2 separate regions of the Homo sapiens genome follow, and region 1 is linked to region 2. The links come from fine-mapping of genetic effects on gene expression. Tissue or cell type: lymphoblastoid cells. Region 2 holds a variant in brackets; the other region holds the start of a gene. All regions are shown on one strand. Distances are from middle to middle.

What was found. PIP is the estimated chance that this variant, and not a neighbour inherited with it, causes the effect.
Region 1: MTCH1 starts here. The variant in region 2 is fine-mapped to the expression of MTCH1 in lymphoblastoid cells (GTEx, PIP 0.90).

Annotation. Positions count from the first base shown.
Region 1 is chr6:36,983,686-36,988,685 of GRCh38, reverse strand. It overlaps MTCH1 (mitochondrial carrier 1), which reads left to right and starts at 2,490. Exons shown (of 12, transcript NM_001271641.2): 1 at 2,490-2,833. The coding sequence starts at 2,513. RefSeq lists enhancers at 1,886-2,095, 2,214-2,936 and a silencer at 2,186-2,775.
Region 2 is chr6:36,263,525-36,268,784 of GRCh38, reverse strand. It overlaps a transcript of PNPLA1 not described here. Among named protein-coding and RNA genes, the nearest start is that of PNPLA1, 3.9 kb to the left of the region's middle. RefSeq lists an enhancer at 31-617. The variant T/A (reference allele first, on the strand shown) is at 2,207.

The DNA of each region.
Region 1 (5,000 bases), 720 kb before region 2:
TGATTCTCCTGCCTCAGCCTCCCGAGTAGCTGGGACTGCAGGCATGCGCCACCATGCCCAGCTAATTTTTGTATTTTTAGTAGAGACGGGGTTTCACCATGTTGGCCAGGCTGGTCTCGACCTCAGGTGATCCACCCGCCTCGGCCTCCCAAAGTGCTGAGATTACAGGTGTGAGCCACCGCGCCTGGCCAGAGCTAACTCCTTTATAGCTCTAAAGGTTTATTGCCAGGTTGCTCAGTAGCTTGACTGCTGAGGAAGATTTTCTTTCATTCAATCATTTCAGTGAGTATACTTTTCATTTCTAGATGTTCTGTTTGGCACCTTTTCAAATACACCTGTTTTTTTTTTTCCTTTACAATTCCTGTTCTTTTTACTAGTACTTCCTATTATTTATCTTTGCCTTCATTTGAAACCTACTTCTTTCCTTTTAATTTTCTTTGAGATGGTTCTATTATCTCAAGTTCTTCCTGTTTTGCCCATTCTCTCTCATGATGGCACGTTTCTTTGAGCGGCTCATACATTTTTTATTGTGAGGATTCTTTTTTTCTTCCTCTTGGAGTCTCTGTGAGCCCTGAGTTGTAGAAATACAGCTATTGTGCAGTTTAACATTTGCTTCTGCTTGGTACCCTACGGGTCTAACTGGTTTAGCTGATCTATTTTTCCTTCAATTTCTTCACTTGGAGAAATTGTTCGATCATTTAGAAATACTTTACTGAACATGTACTATGTGCATAGTCCTATATCTGATGTTGTGGAAGATACAAAACAATGCAAGACAACACAAAGTTGCTGCTTCACATGAAACTACAGTTTGAAAGGGCCAAATACAGTATAGGCCCAAAGTTAGGTGACCATGTAAGGCAGAGTAAAAGGCTCAACGGTGAACAGCCAAGTTCAGAAAGAAAAACAGACAGTTGGAGAAAAATGGGGACGAAAAGCCCAAAGAAGGAAAAGGTTCCTGTGAGGAAGTTTCAGAAGGATGGGGAAGTAAATCATCCTCCCCTACCCCCACCCCCCACCCCCAAACTAAAACCTATCGCCTCTTCTGGGTAGAGAGTTAGTGTGGCACTAGGAACTTGACTTTGAGGTCCTTATTGAGAAAGCTAAATCAGAACCTAGGCAAAAGGAAGTCATTTAAGGTGCTCCTGGGGGATGTTTGATGAAAATTGTGTTTGATGGAGAAAACACAGCAAGTTGAAAGGGTTAGCAGGCTTTGCAAGTGATTTCACTAGGACAAGCCTGGGTTAGGGAGGCCAAGGTGAGGGAGAGAGGGAGTGTGGCATGCTTTGAACGTGGAAAGTACATAGTGTTCATTATCAGGAGTGGGAAGAGGGGAGGTAGCTTTTTAGGGGGTAAGGCAGGAAGGGAGTTAGAAAGGACAGACTGGGAAACCCGGACTAACAGTGGCAGGTGTCGATCTAAAGAAATTTCTCACAATGAACTGGCTATAGACTAAGTACAGACAAAGGGACCAGGTCTTCCATTGCTGTGTCCCTGCACACTCTAGGATCCGTTCAAACAGAAACTTTTATTGCGAACCCCCAAAACTAGCACGGTTCTGTTGTAGGTGTTGTTGCAGAGTGTCGGGCACGTTTACAAACAGGAACAGGGCACTTGCTGTCCTATCTTCCTCGCAGGGTTCTTGTGACGATTACACTTAAATCAACACGTATAAAGCATTTTAAAAAGTGCCTGTCACATAGTCCCTGCAATTTAAGGTCTAGTTGTGATTATTCACTTGTATTAACTAAGAATCAACTACAGGCGCCTAGCAGTGCCTGCATGTGCTCACACTGAGGCACTCACTAAAACCCTCAGGATCTAGTGAGGGAGACAGTCAAATACTTTAGAGCAAAACAAATTTTACAACCACGGACTCTGAGGAAGGCGTGCGAAGGCTCCACAGCTGGGGAGGGTGCCCACAGTCGCCGAGGGGACATCTGGATTTGCTCTGGTTGGGAGAGCATTCCTGGCAGAGGAGATGGAAAATGCGATCGGACAAAGAGGCTGGGACCGCGGAGGGGATCGGGCTCGGGGTCGGGGCTCGTCCTGCAGCAGGAGATTCAGCTCGCGCAGAGTTCCACGCAGGCCGCGGCGACTGGGATCTGGGCCGCAAAGGGGCGGGCAGAGAACTGCAGAGAAAACTCCCGAAGCCAGGGAGGTGGCTTGGAAGCGCCTCAGACCATATTGGGGACGTCTGGCAGCCAGAGGCGCCGAACCCCGCCCCCGCGTGCTCTGGGCATCCCGGGGGAGCGCCCCGGCCTGCGGCTGCCGCCACAGCTCCCGAGCCCGGGGCCCCGGCTGCCCGCCACCATTGACCCCCGGCCCGCAGCCCAGTGTCCTGCTAGGCCTCCAACCGGCCGGGGAGCCACATCCGGCGTGTCCCACCCGCCGCACCACGCTCCCGAGCTCCCCCGCGGCCTGGAGTGGTGCGCCCCGGCCCCGCCCCCTGACGCCGGTGAGGGGGCGTGGCCCCGTCACGTGACGGGGAGTGACCTCGCCGCCGGGCGCCATGGGAGCTTCGGACCCGGAAGTGGCGCCCTGGGCTCGCGGCGGTGCCGCGGGGATGGCGGGAGCCGGAGCTGGAGCCGGAGCTCGCGGCGGAGCGGCGGCGGGGGTCGAGGCTCGAGCTCGCGATCCACCGCCCGCGCACCGCGCACATCCTCGCCACCCTCGGCCTGCGGCTCAGCCCTCGGCCCGCAGGATGGATGGCGGGTCAGGGGGCCTGGGGTCTGGGGACAACGCCCCGACCACTGAGGCTCTTTTCGTGGCACTGGGCGCGGGCGTGACGGCGCTCAGCCATCCCCTGCTCTACGTGAAGCTGCTCATCCAGGTGGGGGACCAGAGGCGCCGTAGGGAGATGGGAGGCTGATGTGAAGGTGACAGGCCAGGATTTGGAGGATTGGGGCGGGCAGTCAATGGCGACGGATTTGGGGAGAGGGGTGGGGACGGCGGGTTTGGGGGGCCGAGTGGGTGGGATGGGAGGGAAGCCGTGAGGGAGTTGGGAACGCAGGGGTCACGGGTTTTAGGATACAGAAAGGAGACCAAGGGGTTAGAGTAATAACAGATACGGGAGAGGGTGGAAGGAACAAGCGATTTGGGGGAGTGCCAAGGAGGGAGCGATGGGCTGGAAAAACATATTTGGGAGATAAAGGAGTGGGGACGATGGACTTGGGATAGGGAAGGGAGCGAATTTGGGGCGAGGGAAGAAGCAATAGAATTGGGGGAGGGGCAAGAAGTTTGGGTGAAGAGATGGGGAGGAAGGTTGGGGGCCCAGGCAAAGTGTTTAGAGAATGAGGAGCACATAATTGGGGTAGAGGGGAACGGAGGCTCTGGATTTGATAGAGATGGATTTAAAACGTCTTGGGGTGGGGACAAAGTGGGCGCCAGGGCCAGAAATTTAGGAGGGAAAGAAGGACACCAGACTGGGGGTGGACAGAGGAGACGGAGGTCTTGGGTTGCATTGTGATTTAATTTGGTGGGAGAGTGCGAAGGCAAAGACTTTTGCAGGGGAATGCTATCGGTTTACCGGAGATGGGGGCTCTGGATTTGATGGCGACGACGGATTTGGTAGGAGGAGGGGACAGGGTGACGCGTATGGGGGGAGGGGAACAGATAGGGCCAGCATTGGGGGAGGGGAGTGGCAGCGATTTGTCTAGAGAGGGGAGCTAGGAGGAGGCTTTAAGCGGGGAAGGGGGATGACGCATTTGGAGGAGGAAATGGAAGTCATAGTTGGGGTCAGAGAGAGGAATCACAGTGCTTGTATCTGGGCAGATGAGGAGAAGGGGCACGGGAGTATTGAAATTGGGCAGAAGGGACAGTGGAGACATAGGTGGCAGGATAGGTAGGGACTACCAGAAATTGAGACCGAGGTAGGGATGTCTCTGGAACAGAGGGATGCATAGGCACTTGGCAGATTTGGTGGTGGCCAGCAATGCGGTACAGATGAAGTGTGCTGCTTGAGGAGTGAGCTGGAATGAAGGGCGTGTGGAGGTGTGAGAATTAGGTGGGTGTGGCTGGGATGGGTACAGTTTTGATGGGGGTCATTAGGCCAGAATTTTCCAGTTAAGAAGCTTGGGGGGAGGAAGGTAAAAATTGAATTGGAGACCCATCCAAGATTTGAGTTGAGGCAGGTGGGTGTCAGATTTTACCATCTTTATAATTGAACCGAGAGAATGCAAAATACAACTGGAATGAGAAGGCCTTGAGAATGAGAGTAATTGAAATCTGGGATCCGAGGAATGGTAATAGATTTGTGGGTGTGACCAGGAATATGACAAGGAATGAGGAGATTCAGTCAGGGGCATCAAGGTGCCTGACTAGACCCTAATTGTGACAGATTTGAAAATTGTTGATGGCGGAAGGTGTAGACCAGACTGGCATTTGGTTGTGATTTGGGAATGAGGGCTGTCTTACAGGGTTAAGATTGTATTTACAGCAGTTGAACTTGAAGTTTGGGAGATAAATTGGTGCTTTGGACCTGAGAAGTGAGGGTTCTGGAAACTGATGGAATGAGACTGAGTGAGGGCTAGGATTTTAGGGCACAGGTGGGAGAGTCTGTGGAGTGAAGGATACTGGAGCACAAGGGCTCAGTGTGAGGGAAATGAAGAAGTGGCTTCATCATTTGGATGATGGCAGATCTGGTTTGAAAGAACATTGAAATGAGGGTGGTTTGGGAAGGGAATGGGGGAATGAAGGACACCAAAGCGTGAGAAGAACTAGATGGTGGGCAGGTAAGGATGGATGAGCCCTGTTGAAGGACCAGAGGTGCCTGTCTGATTTGAACCCAGCTGGTGTTGAGTGTAACATATATTAGGGTAAGATCTTCAATGGGTATAGTTTGGGAATCAGAGTAATAACTTGCAGAAAGGCAAATTACTGGGAGTGGGGGTGTCAGGAGTGGAGTGACAGATTTGGGGATTGTCTAGATTAGGTGCGTAAGAATGCAGTGCCTTAGATTAGTGCATGTGGCTGTCAGGTTTGGGAGTCGGAGATTTTAA
Region 2 (5,260 bases):
GCACACAGAAGCTCCATCCCCAAATCAGATATTTGCAGGCTTCTTGGGAACAAGACAGGCAAATGTGAAATAAGCAGAAAACTGTACAAGGCAATCTATAATTAAGTACTAAACTGTGCAGGGCTGAGATTCCTGCCAGAAAAGTTAGGAGGCGGGGCTGAGCAGTGTGGGCTGGAACATCTGAGGAGCTGTGCGGCGGAGGTGTGGGCTGCGGGACTGGAGGCAGCTGGGAGGAGCAGGCAGGCACTGGTCGAGGAGCAGCAAGAGCCCCTTGCAGAGAAGGGAAGGGGTGTAATGGGACCTGTTTCACAGGATGAAGGGCTTTGGATGAGAACCCTTCTGAGTCATGACATTGGATCCCAACTCTGCTATTTACAGGCAGTGTGACCTGTGCATGATCTCTCTGGGCCTCAGTTTTCCTCATCTGTGAAAGGGACAATACTGTCATTCCTATGCTGCACAGTAGCTGTAAAGGCTAAAGGTAATGGCTGTAGGACGCCTGGCACACGGCACGTCTGTGGTTATCAGAGGGTAGTAAGAGTCAAGGCTTCTGGAACAGATAGACCCCAGAGATAAGGTGGAATAGAAAGGCAGGGTCCAAAGGGGAAGGCTTGATCCACATGCGACATGAGGAGGAGCTTGGAGAGGTCTCAAGATGCAGAGCCTTGGAAGGAAGATGAGACTGGGGCTGGAGAATGAGGAAGGAGGATGGTGGCCCATTCTCCTAGGATGATGGTGGCCAGGCCAGGGTGGCAGCTGCAGGAAGACAAGTTAATGAAGTTATTGCTGCAGAAGACTCTCAGGGCCAGGGACTGGTTGGATGGGCAGGGTGAGTCAAGGCTGAGGCCTCACTTTTAGCCTGGGGGTAGGGAGGAGTGGGGCTGCCTCCTGCAGAGTTGGGGAAACTGGAACAGACCTGGGGAAGCTGGGTGGAGGATGATTTTACTTTAAGATGCATCTGAGATGACAGCAAGACATGGGCACTATCCATGGGGGGGGCAGGGATGGCACCAGAACCAAGGACAGAGATCCCTGCCACTGAGGCAGCAGAGAAGGGTAAGCAGGCGGAGGAGGGTGTGGGGTCATGTTGAGGGGAGGACAGCTATGGATAAGTTTCTTTTTCCGGGTCATCCCAGTGAAATAGAAAGCAAGGCCACCTGCTGTACATGGGCTTCAGGCACCTGGGGGGCTGGGGACCCACCACCCCTTCAGAGACAGTGCATCCTGACATGGCCCCCGTTGTCCCCACCTGCTTGGACCCGGCTGACTTCCACGAATGCACATATGTTTCTGTTCCCTGTGGACGTGGAGACAGCAATGACGCACAGCCTCCTCCATGCAAACACGCCAGCCAGAAATCCGTGACTATACCCAGCAAGGCCGTGGAGGAGCTGCTAACCTGGACCCCAAAGGCTGAGCCTGGCAGACTGGTCTCCACAGCTGACAAGGGCTGGTGAGCAGCAGGCCTCAGCCTGTCCTCTGCTGGGTGCTAAACTCTTGAGAAGGTTCCTTTCATTCGCCCTGGTTCCTGACCCTCTACTCACGCCCTAAGAACTTCAAGCGAATGACATCGAGGAAGAATCACTTTCCAGCATCTCTGTATTTGATTTTTAGTCATCTCATGATCTTTGCAGGTGTTTTTTAACTAAGTTAACACTGCTTGTCTGACTCATCCATCCCTGAGGAAATCACGTGGGAGAAACAGATTGCTTATCACACACTTCCAACAAGACAACCCAAAATGAATTTCTAGAGGAAACTGGACTTCCCATAAGTTTAAGATATGTGAAGCCACCCAGGATGGATACTGGGGAGAAAGATGCACATAGACTCCAGACTGGCTTTTACCTGATGGGGTATCACCCTTTGCTTACCTCCTGAAAATGTTAATTTAGTGAAGAACCTGGTGGTTTCTTGATTCGGTAGAGTAGGAAGGTCACAACATCACCCGTGATTATTCTTGCCAAAACGATGTCACCTGAATCTAATTGAGGCCTAACTTCCAGCTTACAGTAAATATGGAGCATGAAGGATGCCAGGTGCAAACAATCAGACAAATGGAGCCTGTGGGAGGCTGGCAGAGACTGTTGCTGGCTACCAGCAGCCATCTGCGGCCCACTTACTCCTTGCCCACCTCCCTGTAAAGCAGCTGAAAGGCCTGGTCCTTGGTTTCAGCTAAGGGTGAATCATGAGCTCACGGTGATCA[T/A]CAGACCCCACCCCCCTGGACAATGAGAAGTAACAGGGACTCTGCTGGATTGCTTCTTGGAAAGATTTCCCTCCTTGATAAAAGGTAAAAGGCACACAGGGAGACCCCTGTAGCCCCATCCCATTTTCTTCCTGACAGAGACACTGTCCTGGGAGCATATGGTGTGCGGATCTATGACAACTGTTTTACATCCATCAGGGGAAACGTGGCAGACACACTGAGTGTATTGGTTACCCATTGCTTCATGACGATTTACCCTGAAACATGGCACTTTCAAACAATAAGCATGTATTACCTCACACCATTTTTGAGGGTCTGGAAACTGCAAGTGGCTTAGCAGGTGGTTCTCGCTCTTGTCTCTCAAGGTTGCATTCAGGCTGATAGCCAGGGGTGCAGTCATCTCAAGGCTCGTTGGAGCTAAAGAACCCACTTCCAAACTCACCCTTCTGGTTGCCAGTGGGTATCAGTTCTTGGTCAATGTTGACAAAAGCTTTAGTGCCTCATCAAGTGGGCCTCTCTATTGGGAGCCAACTTTCTTGGCAGCTGACTTTCTTCAGTGAGAGATGAAGAGAGTGAGAGAGAGAATGAGGGAAGGAGAGTGTGTGAGCCCAAGATGGGAGCTGCAGCCTTTTTATAACCTAACCTCTGATGTAATCTCAGCTATATTCTATTGGTCACACAGACCAGCCCTGGTAAAATGTAGGAAAAGTGTGAATACCAGAGGGTGGGTATTATCAAGGGCAAATTTGAAGGCTGGCTAAGGCATCAAAAATCGTATAAGAGAAAGCAAGAAAAACCCTGGGTCCTTGATGAGATTCTTGTGTGACTGCACCAACCCCCACACCATTTGTGTGTGTGCTTCCTATGATGACAGATAACTCAATGTCTTTGTTTTTAGTCACTGTTCCCTTGATATTTGCTGCTGAAAACCTCATGGCCAGTGCAAGAGCTCTTAAATATTTCTAGTAAAATGTAGCCCTTATTTTGAGAAGAATGAATGAAATATGCCCTTTGCTTTTAGTAAAAACAAAAGAAATACTTTAAGGTATAGATACTTTGTTATCGTAGGTAAAATAACTGATTCATGAAAATTCTGAAAACTTAATTTGAAAATTTGTATATATTTTTAGAAATTGTTTACCAACTTATTTTTGTTAGAAGCCAAGAAGTAGATTTTTTTTCTCTTCCCTACCCCTCCTGAAAAATACAGTGGGGGTCTGATAACTTTTTTCTCTTTGAGACAGAGTTTCGCTTTTGTTGCCCAGGATGGAGTGCAATGGCACTATCTCGGCTCATTGCAACCACCGCGTCCCAGGTTCAAGACATTCTCCTGCCTCAGCCTCCCAAGTAGCTGGGATTACAGGTATGTGCCAAAACGCCCAGCTAATTTTTGTATTTTCAGTAGAGATGGGGTTTCACCATGTTGACTAGGCTAGTCACAAACTCCTGACCTCAGGTGACCCGCCCCCCTCAGCTTCCCAAAATGCTCGGATTACAGACATGAGCCACCATGCCTGGTCCTGATAACTAATTAAACAGCCCTCCACTGTAGCACTGGCCTTTTGAGGTGTGTGACTTAATTTTTGAATACTTGACCAAACATGTAGACATATCCATGGTGGGGGTAGAAGTGTTTAAATGTTTCCAAAAAGTCAGGAATTTTTAAAGGTACAATGTAAGGAGAGAGGAGAAAGTTTGGCACAGCTGAGATGGGCACAGTTGAGAAGCTTGCTGGCTTCCTGAGCTGTTGTTATTTTGTAGGACCTTGAGATTATTCATGCAGTCTAAATAGTATCTTTTTTCTTATAATGAAAGAGCTCTAGCATAAAGTACCCAAACTAGTGCAGCAAACATTCATATACCCACCAGCCAGACTGAAGAAATCTTAACATTTTACTACATTTGGCTCAGCTATTTCCCTGGTTTTAAAGCAATGAGACGTCACAAGTAAAGGTGAAACCTCCTCAAACTGTTTCCTAATCAATATCACCTTTCACTTCCCCTCCCAGGAGAACCAGGGAGGGAGTGTTCCAGGTTGAAGGGACTCTTTCCCTTCCATGTTTTTTATACTTTCAGTATATTAATATGTTTCATAAACAATATATACTATCGTTTTATAAATCTTTTTAAAAATTTCACATAAACAAACACATTGCCTTTATTTTGCAAATTGCTGTTTTTACTTGGTGTTATGATCCCTGGCTCCAGTCTTTTCCATTTTCCTGCTTTCTGGTGACCCATTATGAGACCATGGGACAACATGTATCATTCTCTTCCTGATGGACATTTGGGTTGTTTCTAGTGTTTTGCTGTAACCAGCAATGCCACAGTGAATCCTTTTGTGTACATCCTTCCTTGGCCCTGCATAGGAATTTCTCAGGTCACAATGTGGGTTTATCAATGGTACCCACAGGATTTCAGTTGATGGAGGTGACTGAGTTACCACATGGAGAGGCTAGTGTCATTGAAGAGATTTCTGTTGCACATACTTACATTTCCTTGCCATGCAGGACTGCATGGGGAAGCTCCAGGTTCGGTCATGGGGCAGAAGGGACGAAAGGAGAGCACAGCCCAGAGCCTTTACGGTGTTTTCCGTGGGAAAGGGAAGGGAAGCGGGGAAGCAGCTTAGGGGCAGGGAAGCAGCTTAGGACTGGCTGATTCAAATCAAGGTGGCGGGCTCTGGGTCATAGGGTTGGTCTCTAGTTGACTGGTGCCTGGCTCTGGGTGATTTTGCCTCTTGGAGTGTAAAAGCCAGATAGAGAGGGTGGATCAGAGCATGGGCTAGTTTACATATGAGAGGCGCCGCTGCCCCACCCACCCCAGCCCTCTGCTATCTCTAAGAATGGGGTAGCCCTGGGAGGGGCAGCCTTGCCCCCATCAGTGAGGCCACAAATGCCAGAACATCAAAAATTCACAAAATAAGAAAGCATGGTTAATACAATGGGCATTTCTGCAACTCTGCAAGGAGTTGCTCGATTGCTCTCTAGAGTGGGTGTGCCAGTTTCCACTCCCATTGAGTGTTTATAAGAGTCCTAATCACGTCACTTCTCTTAT